Linked DNA regions of Homo sapiens. The protein of the gene in region 2 purifies or fractionates together with the protein of the main gene of each other region. This does not show direct contact. Each region holds a gene or a part of one and is shown on either strand. Other genes may lie near its edges. The genes, in order: CHAF1B, ST13, MAP3K3, TSN, SLK, PINX1 and IPO9.

The links.
Region 1: the proteins of ST13 (region 2) and CHAF1B fractionate together in Homo sapiens (co-fractionation; one large-scale study listed by BioGRID). This does not show direct contact.
Region 3: the proteins of ST13 (region 2) and MAP3K3 purify together in Homo sapiens (tandem affinity purification; one large-scale study listed by IntAct). This does not show direct contact.
Region 4: the proteins of ST13 (region 2) and TSN fractionate together in Homo sapiens (co-fractionation; one large-scale study listed by BioGRID). This does not show direct contact.
Region 5: the proteins of ST13 (region 2) and SLK fractionate together in Homo sapiens (co-fractionation; one large-scale study listed by BioGRID). This does not show direct contact.
Region 6: the proteins of ST13 (region 2) and PINX1 purify together in Homo sapiens (co-immunoprecipitation; one large-scale study listed by IntAct). This does not show direct contact.
Region 7: the proteins of ST13 (region 2) and IPO9 fractionate together in Homo sapiens (co-fractionation; one large-scale study listed by BioGRID). This does not show direct contact.

Annotation. Positions count from the first base shown.
Region 1 is NC_000021.9:36,415,771-36,420,104, reverse strand, and holds the end of CHAF1B (chromatin assembly factor 1 subunit B), read right to left. Parts: intron 3,831-4,334; coding exon 3,739-3,830; 3' UTR 1,090-3,738; downstream 1-1,089. UniProt on the Homo sapiens protein: Acts as a component of the histone chaperone complex chromatin assembly factor 1 (CAF-1), which assembles histone octamers onto DNA during replication and repair.
Region 2 is NC_000022.11:40,835,592-40,840,301, forward strand, and holds part of ST13 (hsc70-interacting protein), read right to left. Parts: intron 297-4,710; coding exon 212-296; intron 80-211; coding exon 1-79. UniProt on the Homo sapiens protein: One HIP oligomer binds the ATPase domains of at least two HSC70 molecules dependent on activation of the HSC70 ATPase by HSP40. Stabilizes the ADP state of HSC70 that has a high affinity for substrate protein.
Region 3 is NC_000017.11:63,680,800-63,685,509, reverse strand, and holds part of MAP3K3 (mitogen-activated protein kinase kinase kinase 3), read right to left. Parts: intron 3,745-4,710; coding exon 3,611-3,744; intron 3,175-3,610; exon of another isoform or gene 2,752-3,174; intron 1-2,751. UniProt on the Homo sapiens protein: Component of a protein kinase signal transduction cascade. Mediates activation of the NF-kappa-B, AP1 and DDIT3 transcriptional regulators.
Region 4 is NC_000002.12:121,765,651-121,768,353, forward strand, and holds the end of TSN (translin), read left to right. Parts: 3' UTR 1-2,203; downstream 2,204-2,703. UniProt on the Homo sapiens protein: DNA-binding protein that specifically recognizes consensus sequences at the breakpoint junctions in chromosomal translocations, mostly involving immunoglobulin (Ig)/T-cell receptor gene segments.
Region 5 is NC_000010.11:104,018,667-104,023,376, forward strand, and holds part of SLK (STE20-like serine/threonine-protein kinase), read left to right. Parts: intron 1-117; coding exon 118-242; intron 243-1,067; coding exon 1,068-1,256; intron 1,257-1,821; coding exon 1,822-1,947; intron 1,948-2,953; coding exon 2,954-3,067; intron 3,068-4,710. UniProt on the Homo sapiens protein: Mediates apoptosis and actin stress fiber dissolution.
Region 6 is NC_000008.11:10,819,376-10,822,875, reverse strand, and holds part of PINX1 (PIN2/TERF1-interacting telomerase inhibitor 1), read left to right. Parts: intron 1-2,606; coding exon 2,607-2,683; intron 2,684-3,500. UniProt on the Homo sapiens protein: Microtubule-binding protein essential for faithful chromosome segregation. Mediates TRF1 and TERT accumulation in nucleolus and enhances TRF1 binding to telomeres. Inhibits telomerase activity. May inhibit cell proliferation and act as tumor suppressor.
Region 7 is NC_000001.11:201,856,082-201,860,791, reverse strand, and holds part of IPO9 (importin-9), read right to left. Parts: intron 3,697-4,710; coding exon 3,598-3,696; intron 2,346-3,597; coding exon 2,239-2,345; intron 1,938-2,238; coding exon 1,798-1,937; intron 1-1,797. UniProt on the Homo sapiens protein: Nuclear transport receptor that mediates nuclear import of proteins, such as histones, proteasome and actin. Serves as receptor for nuclear localization signals (NLS) in cargo substrates.

The DNA.
Region 1 (4,334 bases), on a different chromosome or scaffold from region 2:
AGTGGCCACTGAGAATTTGTGCATGAAAACAAGTGTGTTACTTCAATATGCCAGGCAAGGGAAGTACAATCTGGCTCAGCTTCCAGCTGCATTAACTCAGTCTCTCGTTTCTCTGTGGGTGACCCCCCCCTACATTTTCTCTTACCCCTCTCCCCTACCAAAGCAAACAAAGTCCAAGGTTTTCTAGCTGTAGAGACTTTTTCTGATGAAGAAACAGGCACAGACCCATGAAGTAATTTGTCCAAGTCTGTCTGTCCTACACACACACCCAAGGTTGAACTGTAGCTTAATAACCAGGGAGGCTGCAGAAGTCCTGGGAGACCCCAGACCAGGGAAGAAGGGGCTGGAGCAGCTCATCCTCCACCTCCTCCCTCTCCCCATTTGATGTTTCCAGAGCCAAGGACTTGGAACCTATGTTGTTTAAGTGAACGCTGACAACTATTTAGGTAAGGAGGGCCAAGGGCATCGTTACACAGATGTGCTTTCAGCAAAGACGACGGAAGTGGATATAAGGGAGGAAACTGGAGTAAACGAGGACCCCAGGAGACTTTCTCCCCTGCCCCGTGGCACATCCTCCTGCCCCTCTCTGCTAGAGGGCCCTGGCCCTGTGGGCACTTGCTGAGGATGGCTGGGCCCGTTATCCACGATAACCCGAGGAGGCACCGCATACCCCTGTCCACCGTACGGGCCACTGCATAAAATGAAGGCTTCACCCTCTGCTGCCCACGCTGAGCCTCCAACTTTCTTCCTTCAAACGCCGACCTATCCTCACAATCCCAGATTCCAGGGAAGTCAGGTCAAGTTCTCCCAAGCAGTCTCCCCAAGCCTGAGACTGATTTTCTTCTAGGCACCCCCAGCAGCAGGAACTAATATTCAACAGTAGAGTTGCTAGAGACATCTGGAAATACTGCTCAAAACAGAAACAACGACCCCTCCAAGTACAGATCCAGAACCATGAGAAGGATCTTCAACCCAGCAGCCACTGTAAGGTGGAAGCCTGCCCAACCTTCAGGCTGGGCTCCCTTTGCAAAAGCTTTCCCAATACACTGCCCAGATGGTTGCAGGCAGTTTTAGACTATGACACTGAAGTGACTTCACTTGGTCTTTTATTGCCAATTTTGATTTATATTTAAGGATGATGGCTGAGAACAGGCAGGCCATCAGGGGTCCCCCACCCCAACTCCCACAATCAATGCACAAGAAACAGATTTGTAAAACCTAATACTGTTCTTCTTTTTCTCTTTTTTTTTTTTTTTGAGACAGAGTCTCGCTCTGTCGCCCAGGCTGGAGTACAGTGGCACCATCTCAGCTCACTACAAACTCCGCCTCCCGGGTTCAAGCGATTCTTGTGCCTCAGCCTCCCGAGTAGCTGGGATTACAAGTGTGTGCCACCGCGCCTGGCTAGTTTTTGTATTTTTAGTAGAGATGGGGTTCCACCATGTTGGCCAGGCTGGTCTCAAACTCCCAACCTCAAGTGATCCACCCACCTTGGCCTCCCAAAGTGCTGGGATTACAGGTGTGAGCCACCACACCCAGAAAAACCTAATACTGTTCCTCCCCAGGTATGGCCAGGAAGCAGGCTGCTCAATAAGGACAGGGGACCCATGGTCATTCATCTGTCTGCACAGGATCAACAACTGCAAACCGCACCTCACGCCAGCCACATGACACTGAAAGCTGTCTCTTTTCAGAAGAGCTGATGGCACCTCCTGCATACTGTCCTTCAGTCCGCGGCCCCAGCAAAGGAGGATGTCAATCAGTGACGGGGCAGAGATAATCAAGAAAATGCTTTCGGCTGGGCGCGGTGGCTCACGCCTGTAATCCCAGCACTTTGGGAGGCTGAGGTGGGCAGATCACGAGGTCAGGCGTTGGAGACCAGCCTGACCAACATGGTGAAACACCATCTCTACTAAAAATACAAAAATTAGCCGGGCGTGGTGGCGGGTGCCTGTAATCCCAGCTACTGGAGAGGCTGAGGCAGGAGAATCCCTTGAACCTAGGAGGTGAGGTTGCAGTGAGTGGAGATTGCGCCACTGCACTCCAGCCTGGGTGACAGAGCGAGACTCTGTCTCGGAAAAAAAAAAAAATGCTTTCAGTGGAAATGCATTTAACCAGAACAGACCGTATCCAGGGAAAGTTTTTTCCCTTAGATTTCTCAATCTTGGCTGCGCATCAGAATTACTCCAGGAGCTTTAAGAAATCCTAATATTCAGAACATACCCCAGACCGATTAGGCCAAATCCTCCGAAGCGGGAACCCAGGCACTGGTATGTCAGCTCTTAGGTGATTTCAGTATGCAGCTACAGTTGAGAACCACCCGTCAAAACAGATACCATTTGACCAGGCATGGTGTCTCACGCCTGTAATCCCAACACTTTGGGAGGCTGGGGAGGGAGGATTACTTGAGCCCCAGGAGTTCGAGACCAGCCTGGGCAACATGGAAAAACCCCGTCTCCCCTAAAAATATAATAATTAGGCCAGGTGCAGTAGCTCACACCTGTAATCCCAACACTTTGGGAGGCCGAGGCAGGCAGATCATCTGAGGTCAGGAGTTAGAGACCAGCTTGGCCAACATGGCAAAACCCCATCTCTACTAAAAATATAAAAATTAGCCGGATGTGGTGGCACACACCTGTAATCCTAGCTACTCAAGAGGCAGAGGCAGGAGAATCGTTTGAACCCAGGAGGCGGAGGTTATAGTGAGCCGAGATTGTGCCACTGTACTCCAGCCTGGGCGACAGAGTGAGACTCCATCTCAAAAAAAAAAGAAAAAAAATATATATATACACACATACTTGTGTGTGTGTGTATATATATATATATGTATCATATATATGTGTGTGTGTGGGTGCATGTGTGTGTGAAATTAGCATGGCATGGTGGCACATGCCTGTAGTCCCAGCTACTCGGGAAGCTGAGGTGGAAGGATCGCTCGAGCCCAGGAGGTCGAGGCTGCAGTGAGCTGAGATAGCGCCACTGCACTCCAGCCTGGGCAACAGAGCAAGACCCTGTCTCAAAAAACAAAAAAGATACTTTTTTTGCTTTGAAAAACCAATCTAAAAAACTAACCTATTTAGATACCAAATTGCATATGAAATAAAATCTCAATTCTCTTTTTAGAATAAATAGATCCACAAAAATGCTAAGGAAATATACTACAACATTAACGAGGGTTACTTCTGGTGGGAAGATGATGGGTGATACCCATCTTTTTCACTTCACTTAGTTACTAAAAGAATAAGCATCGTCACCTTTAAAATCAGAAAACAAACACAACTACCTTCCAAAGTTTAATCAATCAACTCCTTAGAAGTGAAATCTAACAATCACTTCAAATACTCTAAAATTCGACAGAGTAAAATCTCAAATTACTTTCTCATCTTCCTAATTCTTATTGAAAAGGAGTCCCTCCATGAAGTGTGTGCACTTTCACGAGGATGCCAGGGAGGACTCACTGATTTTCACACTGGATAACGTTGAACCGCTCCAGTTTCAGAAACTCATCAAAAAGAGGATTTACTACGTTAAAACGTTCATGTCCCAAGTTAAAAATGGATACTGAATACAACAGCATCCATATTTCTGGAGAAAAATCAGTACACATGTCACTTCTGTTATAGAAATCCATTTACAGTGTGTCCCGCTCCATGGAAGCCCTGGTCTCAGGCACCTCCAGCTTTACCGTCTCCCTGCACACACCGGGAGCCTGGTAGGCTTCGAGCAGAAGCCGAGGTCCCATCAAGGGTCCAGACTTTCCGTGCCTCCTTTGTTTTCATCGAGTCTGGGCCGCTTTAGCTCTGGGGGACTGCCCTGAGCGTCTCCAGGCGTCTCTGCAACATTAACAAACATAAGGTTGGCAAGTAAATGAAGAATTCTGGAAGTCAAGGGCTGACATTTACAGAATACAGAGCCAAGACACGGAACTGAGCTGCCTGGCAAGATCCTATACTGATATAATGGAAGTTCTATAGAGTGGCTCTCAACCAGGGGCGATTTTGCCTCTCAAGGGACAGTGGGCAATGTCTAGTGGCATTTTTGAATGTCATGGGCAAGCTGGGCGCGGTGGCTCACGCCTGTAATCGCAGCACTTTGGGAGGCTGAGGCGGGTGGATCATTTGAGGCCAGGAGTTCAAGACCAGCCTGGCCAACGTGGTGAAACCCCCGACTCTACTAAAAATACAAAAATTACCCGGGTGTGATGGCGCACGCCTGTAGTCCCGGCTACTCGGGAGGCCGAGGCAGGAGAATTGCTTGAACGTGGGAGGTGGAGGCTGCAGTGAGCCGAAATCGTGCCACTGCATTCCAGCCTGGGCGACAGAGCAAGACTGCATCTC
Region 2 (4,710 bases):
AGCTGAATCAGGATTTATTTCAATGGCTCTGTCACAGTCTCGGATGGCAGCATTTGGCTTCTGTAATTTGACGAAGACACTGAAAAATAAGTGTGTTATTAAAAAGTATTCATTTCAGTAAAAGTTTTGGGATCAACACAGAAGCAACTCTATTTAAACAAATGTGCAGAAATTATTTGCCAGGGGATGCTTTTCTGTTTAGAGTTCTCACCTGGCCCTCTTGGCATACAAAATGGCCAAGCGAGGATTCAGCTTGATGGCATCTGTGAATAAGTCAATGGCTTTCTGGAGTTCACCTAAAGTGAAACAAAAGTTATCGAGAAATATTCAGAGGATAAAAATATTAATAAAAAGTTTTGATCTGTTATCCAGTTAAGTCTTTTACATTTTTCTTTTAATCAAGTAAAAATAAAAAAGACAACTAAGTTATACTAAAACTGGCTCTTGAAAGCAAATCTTACCACACCTATACTGTAACTCACGAGGTAAGACAATTTCTGAGTACGTAAGCCCCTAACTAACAATAGAATAGCACATTCTTAGTATGACCCATATTGATCTTGTTTAAGGAAAAAGTAGACGGGCACGGTGGCTCACGCCTGTAATCCCAGCACTTTGGGAGGCCAAGGCAGGCAAATCATGAGGTCAGGAGATCGAGACCATCCTGGCTAACACGGTGAAACTCCATCTCTACTAAAAAATACAAAAAATTAGCTGGGCGTGGGGGCGGAGCCCTGTAGTCCCAGCCACTTGGGAGGCTGAGGAGTGGCGCGAACCCGGGAGGCGGAGCTTCCAGTGAGGCGAGATCACCACTGCACTCCAGCCTGGGTGACACAGCACGACTCCGTCTCAAAAAAATAAAAATAAAAATAAAAGAAAAAAGTAAAAAGATAAAATCAATTTAAAGGATAAGATAAATTAATTTTATTCCATTGATTTTCTTTTATCCATTAAATTAAAAAGAAAAAATTAAGCTTAGAAAGGAAAAGTAACCCATGTTAACTTCACAGGGCTGATTTTAAAAGAAAACAACAATATGCTTATTATTTGAATTCAAAGAAATGGTACAAAAATTCAAGAAAACTAGAATTCATAAAAGACCATAACCTATACTTTAATTCATTTTGTCCTATTCTCATAGTTAGCTTCTTTACTAATCCCTTATGTCATTCAACAAATAAAACACCCTATAGAATCAGAAGAGTTCTTTGCACAAAGTCTAAATCTTGGGGAGGCAAGACAAATACAGAATTTTTTTTAAGAGACAGGGTCTAACTCTCACATAGGCTAGAGTACAGTGGCATGATCATAGCTCACAGGCTGAAGTGATCATCCCACCTCAGCTTCCTGAGTAGCTGGGAATACAAGCCCACAACACTAAACCTGGCTAATTAAAAAAAATTTTTTAGAGACTGGGCCTCACTGTGTCACCTAGGCTGCTCTCGAACTCCTGGGCTCCAGTAATCCCCCCAACTCAGCCTTCTGAGTAGCTGGGATTACCACTGTGCCAGGCCGAACACAGAAATTTTTAAATAAATGTCACAATTCACTGTGAAAGATACTTAGCCAGTTAGCGAATGAGTAAAGGACTTGAAAAGAACTCACAAAAACAACACAGAAAAATGCTCAGTCTTATTAATTACTACTACAGGTATCTATTATAGGTAATTACACTTAAATGTCTAATAAACAACTCAGACCTACCATGTTCAAAACCTAAATTTTTTTTATGACAGGGTCTTGGCTGGGCACAGTGGCTCACGCCTGTAATCTCAGCACTTTGGGAGGCCGAGGCAGGTGGATCACCTGAGGTCGGGAGTTCAAGACCAGCCTGACCAACATGGAGAAATACCAAGACCAGCCTGACCAACGTGGAGAAACCCCGTCTCTACTAAAAATATAAAATTAGCCGCATATGGTGGCGCATGCCTGTAATCCCAGCTACTCAGGAATCTGAGGCAGGAGAATCGCTTGAACCCGGGAGGCGGAGGTTGCGGTGAGCCAAGATCGTGCCATTGCACTCCAGTCTGGGCAACAAGACTGAAACTCCATCTCAAAAAAAAAAGGTCTTGCTCTGTCACCCAGGTTGGAGTGCAGTGACACAATCACAGCTCACTGCACCCTCAACTTCCTGGGCTCAAAGGATCCTCCCAGCCTCAAGGGAACCTCCCATCTCAGCCTCTCAAGTAGCTCATATTACAGAAACGTGCTACCACATCCAGCTAATTTTTTGTGTTTAAGAGATGGAGTCTCACTGTGTTGACCAGGCTGATCTTGGACTCTTGGACTCAAGAGATCCTTTCGCTTCGGCCCCTCAAAGTGCTGGGATTGTTAAGTGTGAACCACCACGCCCACTCAAAACCGAAAAACTGAATTCCCATTTCCTAGCCCATTTCCAAATCTATTCCCAATCTGTATCTTCCCAACTAAACAAATGGCTCCTCCATACATTTAGTTCAGGAGTTGGTAAACGTTTTCTGGAAAGGGCCAAATAAGAATTATTTTAATCTCTGCAGACCATACAATCTGTCATAACTACTCAATGATGCTGTTGTAGTGGGAAAGCAGCCACAGTTAAGTGCCAGACGTGGGATTCAAACCATACCACTCTGGCTCCATACTCCAGGTTTTAATTACATTCTCCAAACAAAACTGCCTTCACCAACCTTGGTGGAGCTTGGATTCACAACCCCTGCTTTAGAATACTAATCTTTTATCCTTTAGAATACACTATACAATTGCATAAATTCTAAAATCAGAACTAGATTAAATTTACAAAGGCACATGAACAGAGAGTTCAGAAAAAAGTGAGAAAACAAAAACATGATTAGGTGATAGCCTCATTTTCCTTTTGTTACATATTGCCGAGACAGTAAATTTTAAAATGGGCTGGGCACAGTGCCTCACACCTGTAATCCTAGCACTTTCAGATGCTGAGCTTGGGAGGCCTGCTTGAGGGCAGGAGTTCAAGACGAGCCTGGGCAACAGGATGAAACCCTATCTCTACCAAAAAAAAAAAAAAGAGATAATAATTAGCCAGGCATGGTGGCAGGCACCTGTATTGCCAGCTACTCAGGAAGATTGCTTGAGCCTACAAAACTTGAGGCTGCAGTGAGCCATGACCATGCCACTGCACTCCAAACTGAGTGGCAGAGTAAGACTCTGTCTCTTAAAATTTAGGTGGTAGGGAAATTAGCAAAAGTTTCGTGCGATGAAAAGGAATGGTACAGAAGAGCAATGGCTGGGAACAACTGATAGGTATGAATTAAAAGTTGAAATATGTGAAGAAAAGCTTTCCAGAGAAACAGTATAGCATAAATAAAAAAAAAAAAAAAATTCTAGAACAGTAAAGTCTGACTGGAGAAAACAAGATTGGAGAAGTAAAATACAGGATCTTAGTCTGGCAGGTCTATAATCCTCTGATGAAGATCTTAAATATATATGCAAAAGTTAATCACAGGTTACAAGCAAGAGTAGAATAAAAAACAGCTCTAAGAATAACCTAGGGAAAGTAAACAGAAAGCAATAAAGGAATAAATTTTTCAGGAAGGTAAACTATTAAGGCAACTGCAGTATAAAACAGTATAAACATGTTTTAAGGAGCTAAATTAATCAGGTGGTAGAATCACAAAATGTTTAAAATATATACTAACTCGGAACATCAATACTGAACTCATTCTAAAAATAACTTCAATCATCTTCTAAATCTAATAATGAAGTCCAAATGCACATGAGCACTATACAATAGCATCTAGTCAACTATGGCATTGTGACACACTATCACTGTTATAAAGAGTGAAATATTACTCAAGCAGCCACAGTACCCAAGTTTATACATGATTTGTTCTTACAAATTATAACCGATCAAACATTACACTTAATACTACCATGGGCCGGGCGCAGTGGTTCGCGTCTGCAATCCCAGCACTTTGGGAGGCAGAGGCGGGCACATCACTCGAGGTCAGGAATTTGAGACCAGCCTGGCCAACATAGTGAAACCCCGTCTCTACTAAAAATACAAAAATTAGCTGGAGATGGTAGCACACGCCTGTAATCCCAGCTACTAGGGAGGCTGAGGCAGGAGAATTGCTCGACTTGGGGTGGAGGTTGCAGAGAGCCGAGATCACGCCACTGCATTCCAGCCTGGACGACAAAGCACGACTCTGTCTCAAAAATAAAAAATAAAATAAAATACAACTGAAAAACAGAAAAAAGAAAAAAATAATAACCTATTGTTACCTTGGAGAGTTAAAAAAATAAATATATATAAAAAAAGAGGCTGGGCGCAGTGGTTCATGCCTGTTATCCCAGCACTTTGGGAGGCTGAGGCGGGCAGATCACGAGGTCAGGAGTTCAAGACCAGACTGGCCAGCATGGTGAAACCCCTTCTCTAATAAAAATACAAAAAATTAGCTGGGCATGGTGGTACGCGCTTGTAATCCCAGCTACTCGGGAGGCTGAGGCAGGAGGACTGCTTGAACCCGGGAGGCGGAGGTTGTAGTGAGCCGAGATCGCATCACTGCACTCCAGCCTGGGCAACAGAGTGAGAATCCGTCTCAAAAAAACCAACCAAACAAACAAACAAAAAACAAAACCGAATACTATCACCACTTTCTCACTCTGAGGGGATTTACTCAAGAGAATCTAACATGCTCTGACTAGGACGAAGATTGGTATGCCTATGAACATCATCTGTCAAGGGTATTAGTA
Region 3 (4,710 bases), on a different chromosome or scaffold from region 2:
GCAAGTCAAACAATGAAGCCACACCCCCAGCCCCAATTCCCCCCAGTGACCCAGGCTTTATGGCAAGGGCCAGCAAATGGGCCTTTTTGTCAAAACATGAAAGTGTCCTTTTTCTCCCCATGCAATGGGAAGAATAGTTAGAAAGGTACCATCCTCCCCCTTAGTTTGAAAGGCAAGTTTCCAGGAGGGAGAAAAATGCTTGGCTGGCATCCCAAGGAGCTCTGGCAGGAGAGCAAAGCAGAGGCTCTGCTTTTCTTGTTGGCATGTTCTTGGCTCATTAACACTGGAGCCTGGCGCTGGAGATGGTACTACCCTGCTGAGCCTTCCAGTGAGTTCGGGTGGGACCTTAATGCTTCTGTTTACACTCCATAATTTATAATTTACAAAGACAAGGATTGCCTCATTTCACAGATGAGCACTACAGGCCTAGAAAGGTTAGGAGACTTGTCTAAAGTCATAAAACTAGTTAGTGCACAGCTGATACCAGAACAAAAATGTCCCAGTTCCTGGTCCAATGCAGAGGTAATAGATATCTAAATATAATAAAATATTTCTCTGGCCCCTGGTCAAATGCAGCAACAAAAGGCCTTTGGAATCCCTTTTTCTCCAATCAATGTCCTGAAGGTCCTCCCTTTCATTTTCTCTGCACAAAAGTTGGGGTGGGGTCTTCAATTTCAGAATATTCATTATCCGAGCTCCAACATTAAACATTACATAGGGGCCAGACTTGGTGGCTCATGCCTGTAATCCTAGCACTTTGGGAGCCGAGAGGGAAGGATCACTTGCACTCAGGAGTTCAAGACCAGCCTGGGCAACATAGTGAGATCTTGTTTCTGTTTAAATATTTTTTTAATTAATTTTAAAAAATTACATAGGGAAACAAAGTATCAGAATTATGAAAATTCACTAACGACCTCCATAAAATTAGTTTCCAACTCAAATATTTTTTCCCATTTAATACCAGGGTCCATCCCCACCCATAATTTCAAATGCTTTAAGTCATGTTGTCACACATGATTTTTTAAAATCTGCCAATCAAGGCAAATTAATTGCAAAGTAAAACTGCAAATGTTGCTAAGGATATAGGATAGCCAAAGTGGATGAAACCAACATCGGAGAGAATTGCTTTAAATCCATCAGATGCATATTTGGCAAATTTAGACTAGTTAACAGAAAAAGACAAAATGGACAAATAAATAACATGGCAGGTGTGGTGGAGGAAGAATACCAAAGATTCACAAGAGGCCTTGGGGAAAACTGCTGAGTCCTGTGAACGCTCTTGTAAAAAATGACGTTCTTTATGGTTAGAAGTCAAGCAGGGAGTGAAGGACGTTACATTGTGCTAGCATTTTGTTGTTGGTGCTGTTGTTCGAGACAGGGTCTCATTCTGTCACCTAAGCTGGAGTGCAATTCACTGCAGCCTGGGCTCAAGTGATCCTCCCACCTCAGCCTCCCGAGTAGCTGGGACTACAGGCAGGTGTGCCACTATGCCCAGCTAATTAAATTTTTTTTTTTTGTAGAGACAGGGTTTTGCTATGTTGCCCAGGCTGGTCTTGAACTCCTGACCTCAAGCAATCCTCCTGCCTTGGCCTCCCAAAGTGCTGGGATTACAGCTATGAGCCACTGCGACCGGACTGACATAATTTTTGTTGGAAAAATTAGGCCAAAAAATTAACATGAATCATGCTTTGCTCATTCTAAAAATTAGTAAATAGATGCAATTATTGCTTAAACCTGATTAAAGAAAAAACAAAACTTATCATATTTTCACTTTTCAGTAAAGTCACACTGGAATATTCTTTTATTACATACTATGCAGTGTTCGTTCCTGTTAAGCAGATTGATCTCAAATGGCCTGTTACCAGGAGCAATTCTCTTCAGCTAAAGAGGCAGGCGCTGGGGGAGGACCTTGGCAATCCCCAACCACTGCCTTCCTTGGCCTCTTTCTAAAAGTCTGTCCTCACTGGGAGTCAAATCCTCCCAGGCCTTCCAGGGCCATGCAGGCAAAGTAAAAAAGTGAAGGGGGCAGAGTATAGGACCATGGCGAGGGACATAGACTGAGGGCAATCAAGCTCATCTGCAATCTCTGGGATTTTACACCCAAGTCACCCCTAGAACAGCTGATGTCCAGAAGTGCCCTGGTTAGAGAAACCAGAAAGGATGGTCAGTAAAATGCCCAAAAAGGAAATCTGCAGCTAATGGCACTCCAGGTCACTACTCCAAACATGAATTTATCTGGAAGGCAGGAGTATAGAAGGAAGAAGAGTACAAAGGGCTTCTCATAGCCTACATAGTTTGAATAATGAAAGAAAAGTTACAAGAATCAGCTTTTTATAAGATCTCCCATGTGACAGCACAGGCCCTTCTGTTGGACATTTTCCCCTTAAGAAATTTCCCCTTCTCAGGCCAAGCCCAGAAAGTGTAAGAGCAGCCTTTTCTTTTACATCAAAGCAAGTTTATTGAAAAGACCAGAATGAAGCTAGAGATCTCATGCTTGGTGAGTTCACTAAGCCAAATTGCCATTTGCATCAAGTAAGCCACCAATTTAAAAGCTAGCCACTAAAATGGCTGAGCCACTGTGGTAGACACACCCTAAGGTGATTGCTCCCTCTTCCAATTAGTCCCAATGAACTGCCTTTCCCTTTAGTGCAAGTAGAACCTGTGACGTGAGTCTAGCCAATAGACTATGGCAAAGAGGATAGAATATTCATTCCTATGATTATGTGATGTTTTATGACTCCATCTTTGCAGATTGGAGCAAAAGATTCTCCTGCTGGCTTTGAAGAAGCTGCCATGTTGTGAGAGGGCCCCATGGCAAGGAACTGCAGGTGGCCTCTAGGAAGGGAACTCAGAGAAGCCCTTGGGTGACATTCAGAAGAAAAGAGGAACCACAGTCCTACAGCCACAAAAAAACTGAATTCTGGCAACAACCATCTGAGCTTAGAAAAGAGCCTCAAACTCAAGAAAGGCAGGCAGCCTGGCTGACACCTTGATCGCAGTCTTGTGTGACCCTCAGCAGAGGACCCATTTGAGTCATGCCTGGACTCCTCACCCAGGGAAACTGGAAAATGATAAATGTATATTGTTTTAAGCCTCTAGGTTTGTGGTAATTTGTTATGGAGCAATAGATAACTAATACAACTGTCTACCATCATAAATGATCAGCCTAACCAATCCTACAGTGTAATTTTGATATGGTTTACTCCTTACCTTTCATCAAGAAACAGCAAAACTAAAATATATCCAATGAAAAACATAACCTGTCACTTTAGAACCAGTCGTATGTTAAAACACTACTGAAATGAGCTGGGCGTGGTGGTGCCTGCCTGTAGGAACAATGAGAGGACCACGATGAAGAAAAATCTGTTAAATCCTCACCCAACAACAAGGAAACTATGTAGTTTAGATCCTTTAGATCCCATCTTTGGCAGAAATTGTTATTTGGCCCTTAAAAAGGGACAATCCATATTTGGGCAGGCCTGGTTTATAAAAGAGCTTTCAAATGGGGTTCATGTCCCTCAGTTCTGCACTGTGACTACTAAGAACCCCTTGTTATGAGCTTGGTCTGCTGATACAGGCCACAGGCATATCCCAGCCCCCCTATACTCACGCACTGCTCGCTGGTCTCTGGGATGAACTCCCCCTCACTGTTGATGCTGGTGTAGGACCCCTGCCGGGCAATGTGCTGCTGCCGCTCAGGAACATAGCCAGGGGGAGGTGAGCTTCGGCCAGGGTTCTGGGAGCCTAGAGCACATAAAGGAGGCTTTCAACAACAGAGCCCAGGGTGTGTGGCCCAAGAGGAGCAGGCATGGGGCCAACTATTAGGCCCTAGAGGTCAGGAATGTGACTCAGATGGGTCATGGCACCAACGTCCAGCATGTGCCAGCTCCCTCAGGCAAACAAAGTCCCTTCCTAATAGGAAACAAACTCCAGAGATGGAGCAGGCACTACGGCATATCCGACCAAAAAAACCTTGACACAAAACAGAAACCAGAATAACCCCTAGGAGACCATTTTAGCTGGCAATCAGACTAGCTTTTAAAAAAATTCTTATATATAATTACTCCTTCATAATGTCACCTTCTCTCTTCCTCTAGAGCACTAATGCCATTTCCTCCCATCAGCTCAATACATCAGCTTAGTCCTCTTTAGTTTTGGGTCCAAGCAGTATTTTGAGGGTGGGGACCAGGGAAAGGTAACTGAATATACCTGTGCATCTCTCTCTGTTGCCCTGTTCCCCCAGCCAGTGTCTCCCCTTATTTGTTCTCTACTTGTATCAGGTAAAAAGGCCTTCGTGATGGTCTGGCCAGGATCAAAAGGCAGGCTTCTCCATTCCTACCCACTCCCACACTTCCTGGCTTATGAGTAATGATATTACCTTTTTTTTTTTTTTTTTTAAATTGAGACAGGGTCTCACTATGTTGCTCAGGTTGGTCTGAGTAATGATATTATCTTGCATTTATGTGGTGCTTTACTTTTTGTTACACATTCACAGTAATTAACCTCATTTGATTTTCAACATCTCTACAACAGAGGTTTGGCAAATATTTTTTGAGTGGCTGCTAAGTGGCAATCATTCCACAAGGTATTTTTACATTTGTTACTTCACTTAATCCTTTCAACAATCCTGAGAGGTAAGCATTTGCTTTACTTAACAGAGGAGGAGACGGAGACTCAAGGAACTTAAATCTTAAAAAAAAAAAAAACCCA
Region 4 (2,703 bases), on a different chromosome or scaffold from region 2:
TTTCTTGCTTACCTTGACTGTTGATGTACTGATTGAGAAGTTCATTGTCTCGTTTGTGATTCTTCCAGATGTGATGCTTGATATTTTCTATATGCGAGTTAGCCATCCACACCCAGGCATAGCCTGGATACAGTATAAAAATAGATAATTAAAAAGATGGTTGCCAAGCAAGGAAAACTTATTTTATATTTTCCCTTCCTTATTTTAAGCATTGTGAGTAAATCAGATGTTGAATTCTTTTGCCAAGGGAATTATAGCTGCAGGTTCTCTCTCACTGCCATCAAACTGTAAAAGATTAAACTGCGAAGTCAAGCTCAACAGATTATTTTGGAAAGTTTTTGTATTAAGGGATTTAGTAACATCATTTTGTTTTCCACCAGGCAGGGAGTAGGGCTTAGTGTTTTAAAACACCTCTGCTTTCTGATGTTGCCTTAATATTCTGCTATTGCAGCAATTAAAAATTGTCTTCATGTACATTTGGAACTAACACGTGATGTGATATATTCCTAAACTATGAAACCTTTTTCCTAGTAGTCAGCTAGATCATTTGTTCTGGGAGTATAAAGCCACCCACGTAAGTTAATAAGCAAAATCCTGACTATTATGTTGTTAGAGAAAAATGCTTTGCTTTGTCTGGAAGAAAGATAAAATAGTGAATTATAAATAAGTCAGGCCGGGCGTGGTGGCTCACACCTGTAATCCCAGCACACTGGGAGGCCGAGGCAGGGGGACTGCTTGAGCTCAGGAGTTCGAGACCAGCCTGGGCAACAAAGTGAGACTCCATCTCTATATAAAAACAAAAACCACGAAAGCACACACAAAATAAATCAGTGGGATTTGGTAATGTGTTTTAGAGTAAGAAATTTCAGGTTGTTGGTGACTATCCCAACAGTCATGTTTTAAATGTACAGTTTGGGGCAAGTCATGTAAATACTGTTGGTGGTCTTCCCCACACGCCCCAATTTTCAGGTAGTACTAAGAGTATGTGCCAGGAAACTCTTGCTATTGAATTGAGATGATTAAAATGGTGACTTAATCCGTAGTTATTTTGCACCCACTGAAAGGAAAGTGCTTTCCAGAATAATATGAAGTATCTAAAAGTGTCACCTTTTCTTGCCTGATCAACAATTTGGGCTTCCTGTTTGTACAAGGGGCCATTTGGCATACCTTTCACAGCTTTTATCAGGCCAAGTTAAAGGCTGACTACATTTTTTCATCATGAGGAAAGCAGTTGAAATGAGGCATGAGTTACTGTGCATTGGGATTTTAGAACAATTTTCTTGTGACAGCTCTTTTTGTGAAGTTAGGTTCTTAAAAGTGCCCATGATGGTCACTTAAAATGTGCAGTAATAGCACTGCCAGGATCAAGCATGAAAGGCTTTTAAATTAGATCATCCCACAGACAATACGTTTGATAATAGTTTTTTCTTTTAACCTCTTTAAGTATTGATTCTGCTTGAGAATATTGAAGTACTTGCCAGAAGTTGTGGATTTCAGTTTTAACAAATGCTATTAAAGTGGAGAAGCACACTCTGGTCTTGGAATTCCATTTGAGGATTTAGAAGTGTCATGTTTATAACTATTCAGTTGTGTTTGTTGCTGGCTTGTTGTAAAGCAATAAAATTTTTTTGGTCTTTTTGTAAGTGAGTGTGCTGCTGTAAGAAATCTCCCATGTGCATAACAAATTCTGAATATTTTTTGAGGCTAAAGAAGACCGGGGTGACAAGCAGATACTGCTGTGTAATGGTTACACTAACCAAAAGACACCAGCCACTCAGAGTTCTATACTGTAAAGCGCAGATAACATTTGTGTGTTATACCTTGATTGGGGAATTAAAAGTCATTTAACTGAAGATGTTGAGAAACCTGGGCTCTGGTTTTAGTATACCGGAATTACTTTTTTCCAATTTTAGAAAATCAAGCAGGTTAGAGAAAATAGAGATGAATTAGGGGACACTGTCTTATGGATTCATTTATAAGAAGAGAACCAGCCATATACACTTGGGGAGATTTGCCACATCTTAAACTTGAATAATAGTATGAGTAATGCTTAAGGGAGTTTAATAGAGAAGGAAAGCTTTGGCAGTGTTTTGAGAACTTAAGTGGCTAAAGAGATGAGACAAACATGCAGGTCGCTACTGGCATAGTTTCATAATTGTGTACTCGGAAATTAAAGTTTGCTTGTTTCTTGGTCTGGATTAAACTGTTTGTCCTCCTTTTCAGATAGAGCATCACAGTCAGGGCTGACACCAAAATAAGACTTTCCCTGAGCCTGAAATAATTTTTTTTTTTTTTTAAGTATCTACTGTAATAAGCATCAAACAAGCAGAAATAAACAATGTCCCTTCCCCTGGACAACAACAACAGCAATAACAAACATTTAAAGGCGGTAAAATTGCCAGGACTGGTGGGTTGGTTGAGTGGGCTGGGTGCGGGTAGTAGGACGAGATGGGACGGGACGGGGAGGAATCTAGCATCGCTGCCAGGTTTCTGGCTCAGGTTTGGTGCCATTCACTGAGGTGAGGAGTGTAGGAAGATCGCATGTCTGGAGGGGGCTGGGCAGCTGATGCATTTGCTTTTGGATGTGTTGGATTTATGACACTGGAGCGGCAGGTGGATAAATCAAAAGTGGGTAAGATCTCCCTGGAGAACGTGTAGAATGAGAAGAGTCACAAGCTGGGGACAAATTCTTGGTTAACAGCA
Region 5 (4,710 bases), on a different chromosome or scaffold from region 2:
AACATGTGTGTACGAGTTAGTGTATTTAGAATACTTCTATGTAAATATTAAAATGAAGAGCAAAGTACATTAGTAAAAAAAGAGCAAAGTGACATTTTGAAAACTGCTGTCTTCTAGCTCGAGAAGCTGCAATTTGGGAGCTCGAAGAACGACACTTACAAGAAAAACACCAGCTGCTCAAACAGCAGCTTAAAGATCAGTATTTCATGCAAAGACATCAGCTACTTAAGCGCCACGAGAAGGTTAATGAAAGGAAAATTTCTTCATTTTTTTGTTCGTTTTAAAGTTTGCAAAGCTATTTAGTTTTGAAACTTAAGTTTCTTAGATAATGAATTTTAGATTTCCTTTCTGTCTTTTATCCTACAATTTCTTGGATGAAGTTTGGAGTAATTAATTGTATCTTGATCATGATTGCAAACTTCTTTTCTACAAATTATAAGGAAAGTAACTAATTACAATGCTTAAAGACGTTTTACACCTTGTAATCTTCATCTCGGCTCTCAAAGGTAGCTATTTTGGCTCTATTTGTGGTTCAAGTATCTTAAAGTATGGACTCCTTGTACTTATTAAGAGTTGCAGTATAAAACTCTCATCACTAATAACTTTCTTTTCTTTTTATTCTTTTGAGACAGAGTCTCGCTCTGTCACCTGGGCTGGAGTGCAGTGGCACTCAGTCATAGCTCACTTAACCTCGAACTCCTGGGTTCAAGGGATCCTCCTACCTCAGCCTCCCAAGTACATTCATGCACCACCACACCCTGCTAATTAAAAAAAAAAATTTTGTGTGTGGAGACAGGGTCTCACTATGTTTCACAGGCTGGTCTCAAACTCCTAGGCTCAAGTGATCCTCCTATGTCAGCCTCCCAAAGTGCTGGGATTACAGGTGTCAGCCACCAGACCTAGCCTAACTTCTTACAAGTTATTTTGTGCCTAGTATTTTGCTGGTCACTGCAACAAGGGAGAGGGTAATTATAGGAAACAACAATAACAAAATGACATATTTGAATATGCATGTGGGTACTGACTATTGTTTCTGCGTCACTGGATTCTATTTAAAACTTTCATAGGAAACAGAGCAAATGCAGCGTTACAATCAAAGACTTATTGAGGAATTGAAAAACAGACAGACTCAAGAAAGAGCAAGACTGCCCAAGATTCAGCGCAGTGAAGCCAAGACTCGAATGGCCATGTTTAAGAAGAGTTTGAGAATTAACTCAACAGCCACACCAGATCAGGACCGTGATAAAATTAAACAGGTAAATATGCAAGTTAGTCTCTTCTCTTTTAGGTTTAAAATTTTTGAATGACCATTAGAAGTTCTACAAAATTCCTTTCTTTCTAAACAATTAGAGCCACCTTAGGCTTGTTGATGTTCACTTTAATTCTGTGGGCTGGGACTATAGATACATGGCATATACCAATTAGTCTTCCCCAGGATGGTGGTCACAGAGAGCAAAGCCCTTCCTCCTATACCCCATACCAGCTCCTGAGCTAGACTGGTCCTAAGACCAGCCCTGGGAATGAGATGACTCGGACAACTTTTCAAGTCAAGATATATGGCCTCACTGTGATACTTCTGTAGTCATGGTCACACACACAAATTAACTCAGATCACTAAGCAGATAGGAGGATCAAGGTTTTAATCAGAAGTTCCTGCTCTTCTCTGAAGCTGTGATGTGGACTCCAGGTTTGAGTCTCAGCATATTATTACTTGTAGCTTCAGTTTATTGTGCCTTGTTTTGTTAAATTCCTTTATATCTTCAGAATATATAGAAATCACATGCTTCTGAACTATAGTTTATCTTTTTTTCTTATTTATAGTTTGCTGCACAAGAAGAAAAGAGGCAGAAAAATGAGAGAATGGCTCAGCATCAGAAACATGAGAATCAAATGCGAGATCTTCAGTTGCAGTGTGAAGCCAATGTCCGCGAACTGCATCAGCTGCAGGTCAGATACAGAAGCCTGACAGCAAAGCCCATAGGATGCGGCAGCACAAGTGGCTGCTTTTGAGAGAACAGTAGCTAGCCAAAGTCAACTGCATCATACACGAACATGCTGGGTTTGAGAGGTTCTGTTTTTTGTACAGATCCAAATGAAGATCAGTTTGGTATCATAGGCACTTGTGTAGATTATATATAACCATGATTAATGTAAACATAAAGCTAAATTGTAACCTACGAAATTGAGTCTTTCAAAAGCAGTATTGAGTATGGTTTTTAGTATATTTTGCAAGAAGATGTGGAGAGTTTCAAAATGATGTAGACAGTTTTGTTGTCATATTCTGAATTTTTTGTCAGATTCTAAATTTAAAATTTCTTTTCCATTTAGAGGGAAATAGTTTATTTTCTTCTAGGTTTTTGAAATAAGTGATAAGTTAAATATATGGGAATTTTTCTCCTAGGAAATTTAAAAGTTATTCGAGAGAGGGCTGATTTAGGACCTTACATAGAATGTACAGCCCATCTAAAATGTTTAAGATTTCAGAGTAGTGTATAAATGTGGGTATCTATATATTTGCTTAATTTACTATAGTAGAACAGATCCTAATAGATTGGCCTAATGGGCCAATAGATCTTTTACAGGAATAGATCTATTAGGCCAACCCTTTAGTACCAGATCCCACATTCTGTACTCACGGGTAAAATGTATGCAGGCTGCCTTCTGAAGTGTCAGTTTTATGAGCAAATCTTCTTAGAAAGGAAAAACAAAAGCTCAAGCTAGTTCTTTTTAAGTTCTTTTTATATGGTATGTAATAGTTCTAGCTTCTAAACTTGTAAAAATGAAGCTATGATTCATTTCCTAATTCATGGCCCTTGGTTTTTATAGAGGAAAACTTGAATCTCAGTAATAGCATGATATTTGATGAGTAATTTATTATTATGGAAGATAATTGTATTTGTGAAAAATTGCTTAGTTGATCTGAAATTTTTTTAAATCCCAACTTTATTTTCAGAATGAAAAATGCCACTTGTTGGTTGAGCATGAGACTCAGAAACTGAAGGAGTTAGATGAGGAACATAGCCAAGAATTAAAGGAGTGGAGAGAGAAATTGAGACCTAGGAAAAAGGTAATTTTAAAAGCTTTAATTAAAATGATATGTGTGTACTCGTCCGTCTACCCAGCTATTGGCTCTTTACCTACTGTGTCAGGTACAGTGTCAGGGGCAGGAAACATAGAGATGAAAAGACAAAGTTTTTGTCCCCAGAAGTTTTGGAATCTAGTGACAAGCAGTTAGGAATTGGTAGGGTCATTGCTCTGAAGGAGGTGAGTACAGGATACAAGGGAAAGGAACAGATTTTGTAAGCAGAGGAGGAGGAGAGCTTAAATCTGCCTGGGTAAGTCAGGGAGGGTCTTCAAGAGGAGATGCCTTGCAAGCCAAGTGAGTCTTGAAGGGTGAGTAAGAACTTGCTAAGCGGATGGGCTGATTGGAGTGGAATGGGATGATTTGAGTAGGGAGAAGAGAATGAGTGAAAAGGAAGCGTACAGAGAATTGTAGATCGTTCTCTGACATTGGAGTATGAGAGGGGGTGTGTGCCAGTGTGTAGTCATTAGGGAGGAAGAAAAGGAAGGAAGGAAGGAAGCGATGACAGCTGAGTCTGAACAGGTCAACTGGAGCCATATTAAAAGGCCCTGTTATTCTACGTAAACTTGAAATCTGGTAAAATAGGGATGGTGTCTTCTCTGTCTCACCCCTTTCCCTTGTTTGTGCTTGACACCCTATTCACCTGGTCTTACTGGCTAACCATTTCACCTGAGTTTTTGCTATCACTATATGATCTCTGACCCTTCGTTACTCAAACTTAAACCTTTGTTTTGGGGGGAGCTTCCTGCCTACTGTACATTTCCACCATTCCTTTCTTCCATCCATACAATCAGTCAAGGAAATATGTATTTAGCTATGTGCCAAAGGAAGTGAAATGACTAAATGAGTTCATAGTGTGGCTTTTTGTTTGTTTGTTTAGACAGAGTCTCACTCTGTCGCCCAGGCTGGAGTGCAATGGTGCGATCTCGGCTCACTGCAACCTCCGCCTCCTGGGTTCAAGCAATTCCTCTGCCTCAGCCCCCCAGGTAGCTGGGATTACAGGCATCCACCACCACACCTGGCTAATTTTTGTATTTTCAGTAGAGACGGGGCTTCGCCATGTTGGCCAGGCTGGTCTCAAACTCCAAACCTTAGGTGATCCACCCACTTGGGCCTCTCGAAGTGCTGGGATTATAGGCGTGAGCCACCATGCCCGGCCCATAGTGTGGCTTTTTAATTTAAATTTTCTTTATTGTTAAACTTTTTGAATAGGTAATGCATTCATGTAGTTTAGAATTCAAAAGGTACAGAATTGTAAACGGTGTAAAATCTCCTTTACCTACTTGCAGCCTAGCATCTGCTTCAAACACCCTAGTTGAACTAGTTGACAGTGGTCACAAGTGAGTTGCTAATAGTCAAATCCTATGGCCTTATCTAACTGTTCTCCTTAAAAGTCTTGTTTCTTAAAATTCTCCTCTCACCTGGCTTTTGTGACACAGCTCTGCTCATTCTCTGTGTTCTTTATCCCCTTTTGTCTCCTGAAATGTAGACATTTCTCAGTTTTGCCCCTGTAGTAAAGAACAGTCTTTACCTTGATGATTTTATTGCTAGTCATGGCTTCAACTGTTGCAGATAGACAACTCCAAAACTTAAATGGTAGCAGTTGTATAGAGCATGAATTGTAAAGT
Region 6 (3,500 bases), on a different chromosome or scaffold from region 2:
AAACCTTAAGTGTTTTTTTATTTTAGCAAACATATTCCTTGCCCTTCACTTCTTTACTCTCGGCAGCTCAACTCTGCTTTTCCATAGAGTTGGTTTTTTGAGCCTCAGTTCTAATACAGCTTGTTGGGTTATTGCTAAACTGTTTCCAAATCATCTTGATTCCTAAGTTCTCGTGTCAATGAAAGTTTTAGTTGCCTCCCATGTGTATTTCTTGGTATTGTAAATGTGTCTGACTATAGCAGTAATGTTCCTCCCTTCCCAGTAGCTACTCTGATAGACTGGGAAACTGATAATCATGATTATTAGACAAACAGCTAAAGCAAACCTAAATAGAGTGTTCTTCCTTGAAAGTACCTGCTCATCCTTGCAGGAACTTTCAGTTTGACTCTTGGAGGCCTTTCTTACTGGTTCTGGAAATGTTACGCATTGAAGACTAATAGATGAACCAAATCCAGATAGATGTTTCCTATTCAGTTTTCTTCATTGTCGTTTTCTCTAAGTTTATCAACAGTATTTTGTATGATTTGACCATAATTCAGAACTCAAACAAATAAGCTTTTTAAATGCTTTTTAAATTTGTCGTATTTATTCAAAAGCGGCCATAATTTCCTGGTGTTTATAAGCTTTCCATCAGGACCATTAATTAGTAACTATCTCAAGGTCACTTCCATCTTCACCTTTTTGTCCACCTTTTATGTTCCTTTCCACTGGTCTCTGACTCTTCTTTCTTCTCTGTGTTCTTGTTTTCCAGATCAAATCCAGAGCAAGGCCTGTAACAATCCTGGTTTCTACATTTACTTAAGTGAACTTTGCTAAAGGCTAAAAATTTCTGATACAAGAATCCATCATCAAAACTTTAGACACATTTGCACCTTCATTGATATAGCTTACTGTCTCTACCAGCTTGACAGTTTTCCCTTTGACTTTCAGATCTGTTTTGAATCTGTGTGTTCACATTTTGACATCATGTTTTAGAACTGTGATCTCGCATGTACCCTCTCTTCCTTAATCCCTCCAGCATTCCTTTTAGTCAAATTGCTATAGAAGAGACCTTAATTTGCATTTTCTAGAGTGTCTCTATTCCAGAGGATAGGTTAGGGATAGATGGCCAGTACACATTTTGAATTAAGTACAGCTGCCTTTTCTGAAGTACAAACTGTGCTTTGCATTGGAAAATGGGTTGTGCTGGCAGCAAAGCTGTGAGGACATCTCTACACCTCCGATGAGTTTGTCCACCTCTTCCCGCTACAACCAGTTTTCTTCCCCACTTTCCCGGTTCATTTTCTGCCGTATCTGTGGTGTGCATCGTCTATTCTTAAGTAGGTTTTCTTTTGGGTCTTTTTGTGTAGGTCCTATTTAATCATAAATGAAAAGCAGGAGGGCTTAGTGTCAAGCTCAGGTAGGAAGGAGAGCAGCAGCCAGAGCCCAGAGGAGCCTGCCCTCCTGGCAGGAACAGGTCATACCGCCTGGGCCACTTCATCTGGTACTGCTGCCTAGGAAACTGGTTTTGGCACCTGGTTTTGCATTAAATTGAAGAGTGTTTTGTTTTTTTAATTTCACGGAGTCACTGAGCAATATCATATTTAAGTGCCCCAGTGATAGTGAACTAGAACCTTCTGGGTCATGACATTACTTTGCCAAGGCAGTGTGCTACAGGAAACCAAGAAGACAAGTGAGTCTGTGACGGTGGAACTCGGCTTCCAGCGTGAGACTCACATTCCTGTGTCTGACCCAGAACCTCCCTCGCCCAGAGCCTCAAGCCTTTACATGGAGTAGTTACATTTTAAAATGCATTTACCATGCCGTTGACAAATGGGACTAGATTTGGCCTACTGCTCACAGAGGATTATTGGGTAGAAGTGGAAATTCCAAAGAAGTGAATTTTAAATTAGTTGGTTTGGGGGTTTGAAATTAAAGAGTTTAGTGTTTTAAATAAGAACCATAGAGCCATTTAATTTCCTACTCTCCCTATGTAGCTTTTTATTTAGAGACAATATAGCTAGAGCAGTAAAGAACATTTTAAGAAGAAAAATCTGAAACCCTGTCACCCTTTTACAGTATTTTTGATTTACATATATTCTTTTAAAATTTTTATTTGTTGAGTTAATTATTAAGATCCTGTGTGTCAAATATGATACGTTCTCATTCATGTGCATATGTGGGGTCTGGAGCTGTGTATCTAGTGATATTTTTTCATGTGTATTTCGTAATCTTCTAAGTAAGTAGCTCATGTCTCTGAAGCAAATGAGATCTATTTTTAAATGAAGAACCCAGAGACCCAGGAATTGCATCTTGAGGGCATAGCGGGAGTAGGGTGAGCTGTAGAATTTAGCTTTCCTTGCAGTCAGTATGCTCTAGGTTGTTTCTACAATTAAGAGAATGTCAAGAGTTCTGGTTCTAAAACATTTACTTGGTTTTAAAATTTAATTAATTTTGTTTACTAATGAAAGAGTTGTAATGAAAAAGTGGGTAGAAAGTCAGTAGTTTCAAAATTGTTTCTTTCTTTCCCAAAAGCCATTTTCCTTTGAGGTGCTGCATAGTTCATGTCTGCGCTCTTTCTTTTAGGAAGAACAGTCTTACTGAAAAGCATCACATTGTTTTTCTAGGGAAGGATCTGTCATCTCGGAGCAAAACAGATCTTGACTGCATTTTTGGGAAAAGACAGAGTAAGAAGACTCCCGAGGTATAAAGCCACGTACAGTTTCCGTGTTCCGCTTTAATACTGTCTGATTTTCACCTGTGTATAGGACTGTTTCTATCTATGACTAGTACTTTTCTGACAAACTTTCCAAAACACTTTGGAGGCTTCATGCACAGCCTAGATATGATCCTTTTCATAATATTAGTGGGTAGATAATGTTTTATAAGGAATCTTTAAAAAAAAGAATAAGTGTTTTCTGGTGTTTGGCTTTTGTTCTTTTTGTTTTGGTGTGAGGACTAGATTAAACTTGGGGAAGAACACCCATTGCCGATACAATCAGAGGGGAAAATATCTCTTCCATGGCCGAGAAGGGGAGGGATTTTGTCTGTTCTGCTCAAACTGCATTACTCCACTTGGAATGGAGGTGGGAGGAAGCATGTCACCTTCATTCTCTAGAACCAGCCTGTCCCATTCTAACAGCATTTGAGACAGCGCTAGATCAGCACCATCTATAAGGGGGTTTGATGGGTATTTCCTCTATTATACAATATTATTTGCCTTACAACTAGAAGAAAAGAATGGGGTGACTAAACTACACCCTCAATGGAATGAACTCCATAATTTATTCTAATTATTAAATTGGGCTGTATAATATTGCAAAGAATTTTTTGTGCTGTTTTGAAGTGTAAGAGACAGCCCTGGATATAGTTTGAGATATATTAGGATTATGGATTTCTAAAGATAACAGGCTAAAAGTATTTAGAACTGGCATTGTCTGAGAAAATCTGGAATATATGGTTGTGACCACTGTTACTCAGCTAATCTGGTATGTTGTACTGATGATCTTTTATTGGTTTGT
Region 7 (4,710 bases), on a different chromosome or scaffold from region 2:
CCATTTCTTTTATTTTAAAAACAACTCAGTTTTAATCTTTAGTATGTTAAATATTAATAAATTAAAGCCACATAAAAATGTCTTTTAAATTATTGATAATTTGTAACCAAAAAGTTTCAGAATGGTTGGTGTAGAAAAGGTTTTAGCTACAGGTAGGATTAACAAATGATATATATTGAGCCTTTTTCCAGACTAAATAACAAATATTCTAAAATTTCCAAAGTTTTTGAAAAATCTTTGCTAGGGTAAACTCTATAAGAAATGTGTTGATGGGCTTCAGAAATCATTCAATGTGTAACTATGGGATGCCTACTCAAGGCACTTGTAGGATACAAAGATTAGACATGATTTCTACTCTCAGAGACCTTACTAGTAGGAGTAAGAAAACATATTCAACAATGCAGCATATGATAAGTACAGAGTGAAACAGGATATTCCCAACGCATCTGAGCTCTGGATGTACAACCATTTTAATTTGTGATTCAGAGAATGGAAGTGATGGACTGAGACACCCGATAATAGATTACCTATTTAAAATCACAGAGCAGAACATTTTCAAATGACATAAGCTACTCCCAGAACTATCCTATGGAGAGGAAGTAAATGGACCGAAAATGGAGCAAACAATACCAAAGGTTCCATGATTTAAGTACTGAGAGAGAAAGCAAAGGCAGTGTTTTCGGATGGTGATCTGGCTCCAAGGATGAGAAAAGGCATGGCATGGCAGAAGCAAGTAGCAGAAAATGCCACATAGACAACAATGATTCTCAGCTACTGCTCTGTATTGCGGAAGAAATCGGTCTAATAGTAAAGGGCTACCTTTTTTTTTTTTTTAAACCAAGTCTCGCTCTGTCACCCAAGGTGGAATACAGTGGTGTGATCTCAGTTCTCTGCAACCTCTGCCTCCTGGTTCAAGTGATTCTCCTGCCTCAGCCTCTTGAGTAGCTGGGACTACAGGCTCCTGCTACCACACCCAGCTAATTTTTATATTTTTAGTAGAGATGGGGTTTCGCCAAGTTGGCCAGGCTGGTCTTGAACTCCTGACCTCAGGTGAGTCACCTGCCTTAGCCTCCCAAAGTGCTGGGATTAGAGGCATGAGCCATCGCGCCTGGCCTACTTTTTTCTTTTTAAGACAGATGGCTAACATGGGTATGAGAATGGAACATTTTAATTATTTGGATATTGGCCAAAAATAAAGTTTGAGAAAAATGACAGGAAACAAACAGGAAGAATGTGCCTGATACAGAATGCCTGAGGGCATTCTGGACTTAACAATGGGAGCAGTACTCGATAATTCTCAAGGTACAGCAACCAGATTTGGATTCCATTCAAATGCCAAAAACAACCATGAATGGGAACGCCAATTTGGGAAGAAACATAAACATCACGGAAGAATTATGAACTAGGCAATATTAGATTGTCATTAGGTGAAGCTTGAATCGGCCTCTGGGCTGTTTTAGAGGTTCGGATGAGTTCAAGCTGTAGGGTGCAAACAATTTTCACTCAAAGGACACAAGAATATCTGGCCTACCAGTCTAAGTGAACAATATAACCAAGTTAATGACAGGTTTAAAGAGTTTCCTTTATATATATATATATATATATATATATTATACTTTGAGTTCTAGGGTACATGTACACAATGTGCAGGTTACATATGTATACATGTGCCATGTTGGTGTGCTGCACCCATTAACTTGTCACTTACATCAGGTATATCTCCTAATGCTGATCCCTCCCCCAACCCCACAACAGGTTTAAAGAGTTTCTAGAATCCTGGCACGTGCTGAAACATACCTGAGAGGTTGAGGTCTGCAAGGATGACATTGGTCAGGAACCCATGCATGTCAAAATGAATCCTGCCATTTTTCACACTGTCAGTGATGATGGCCTTCACTGAGCCTAGGGCAAGCATGCATGCCTCATGGATCTTCCACCTGTGAAAGGATACTACAGCCTAGTAAAACATACTAAACTGCCAAAAGAGATAAATATTTGAGGAAACAAGATTCAGAAAAGGGCACTCCAGCACAATCTCTTCCAAAAGAGTCATTTACCTTAAGCCCTTCCATTCTAACCTATAGCTGAAAAGAGTGAAATTTTAATAATAAGAGATTAAAATCTGTTATTAAATTAAAACCAGATTTTCAAATTAAGATAAAAATAAATCCATCCTTTCAAGACTTTTTAAGAAGGGGTAAACAAAAGCATCTTAACCAATTAGCGGCTCACTCTTACCAGTGCTCAGTGCCACTGTTTTTGGTTTGCTCAGCTTCTTGTAAATGTCGAGTGGCTGCAGCAGCCAGGGCTGCTGCACTTTCATTCTGGAAATCTGTGGCCACAGCCTATAGAGAGAGAAGAGCTAATAAATCTGTTTGTGCCCATTAAATGCATTTTAATTGTAAACCGCTTCAGTCATGACTGTTAGAAGTGATTGGTTCAAGCTCTTTCACATACATGTGCAAACCCCTAATTGTATTAAAAATGTTATACCAGTAGGTCAGGGTCTCTAATGAAATTAAAGTAGTATCTGTATTTCGGTAGTGCCTAGGCATTGTAAGGCTAACCAGTTGGCTCCTTTGGCTATATTCAGCAGAGCATAAGTGAGCAATAATAGATCTAGCTTTGGATGACAATGGACCAAATATTTGCTCTCTTGGAGACTGATGATAGAAAAATAAGTCTAATCTACTAATTGGAACTGAATATAATCTTTCACAGCTCCTTAGAAATACTAAATGATAATGAGAAGTGATTCATCAACAGAGAACAAATCTCCTACCCAACAAGAAGCAAGTGGCAGTTTCTTCTTAGTATTTCAGCCTAGAGACAACTCTATGCTCTAGTCAGAAGAGGCAAAGAAAACATGAGCAGGTATTTGGATGTTAATCTTTCAGCAATCTGTTTTGTTTTGCTAGGTTTGCCAACCTTTTGTCTGTGCTATAGATTCTTGTTGAAGAGTGAATTAAACTGAAATGGCTTTTTTTTTTTTTTTTGAGACCAAGTTTCACTCTTGTCGCCCAGGCTGGAGCGCAATGGTGTAATCTTGGCTCACCACAACCTCCGCCTCCCGGGTTCAAGCAATTCTCCTGCGTCAGCCTCCCGAGTAGCTGGGATTACAGGCATGCGCCATCACGCCCGGCTAATTTTGTATGTTTAGTAGAGATGGGGTTTCTCCATGTTGGTCAGGCTAGTCTTGAACTCTGGACCTCAGGTGATCTGCCCGCCTCGGCCTCCCCAAGTGCTGGGATTACAGGTGTGAGTCACCACGCCCAGCCATAAACTGAAATGTTCTTGATTCAACTACCCTTACTCCATGGAACACTTTATCCTCTATACAATTCTCCCCCGCACCCCGGCCCTATGGTCTGCACAATTCTTTTATCTAATATTTAGTTTTAAGTTAGAACCAGTAGCAATGATTTTAGAATTTCTGAGTCTCGAATTTCATTTCAGAAACTCTCTTGCATCCCCAATAAAGTCTGAGATAAAGCCACCCAACAACACTGCTCACCTTGGATTAGTTGTCTACAAAAAAGAAGAAATGCTCAAGTGACTGATAGAAATTATGTGGCTGAAGTATCAAGGTAAACTTACCAGCAACAAGTCTTGAGCTGCTATTCTAACAGTATAGGAGAATGTATCATCATCTTCATCTTCTACAAATTGTTGGGGGTTGGCTGTCCATACTTTAATCTGAAAAGATCAAGTTATGTCTTTGTGATGCTGCCAATCTGATTCATAGCTTTTCATCAACAGATACAGGAAGATTTCAACCTATTATCCTGAAAAAACTCTAGCCTTTTGCTGGATGCAATGGCTCACAACTGTAATCCTGACACTTTGGGAGGCCAAGGTGGGAGGACTGCTTGAGCCCAGGAGTTTGAGACCAGCCTGGGCAACATAGTGAGACCCCACCTCTACAAAAAATAAAAAAGTCAACTGGGCATGGTGGCATATGCCTGTGGTCTCAGCTACTCGGGAGGCTGAGGCAGGAGGATGGCTTGAGCCTGGGAGGTCAAGGCTGCCGTGAGCTTTGTCTACACCACTGCACTCCAGCCTGAGCAAAACAGCAAGACCCTGTCCCAAAAAGCAAACAAAACAAAACAACAACAACAACAAAAACTGAAACAAAAACTCTAGCTTAAAAAAATCTTTTCTTTTTGATGTAGAGAAATAAATACTATTAAGTAGCAAGGTAGGTAGCAATGGCTATTGCTCTCTTTTAGAATCTGGCTGATTACTAGCTCTCTGCCAATGTCAACCTGCTGTTACCCTTTGATAGATCGATTTTCTGAATAGATTAAGTCTGATAGACTATTTATTGTGAAAATTATGTCAATTCTTGTGCTGTTTTAAACGAGGCGTTATCTAATTTTTGAACGTTCTTTGCTGCTTTTGATGACCCACCATCAGGCTAATGGTCTGATTATTACATTTTACTTTAGGGAAGGAACAGATTCTCCTAAAAATCAGTGTCTTAGGTTAGTGGTCCTGTGAGATTTTCTAATGGCAAAAGTGGGCCAGGCACAGTCACTCATGCCTGTAATCCCAGCACTTTGAGAGGCCAAGGTGGGTGGATTGCTTGAGCCCAGGAGTTAGAGACTACTAGCCTGGGCAACATAGTATAGTACTTTGCTGGGAAAAAAAAAAAAAAAAAAAGCCAGGTATGGTGGTGAACTCCAAAACCTTGGATTTGGCAATAAAATG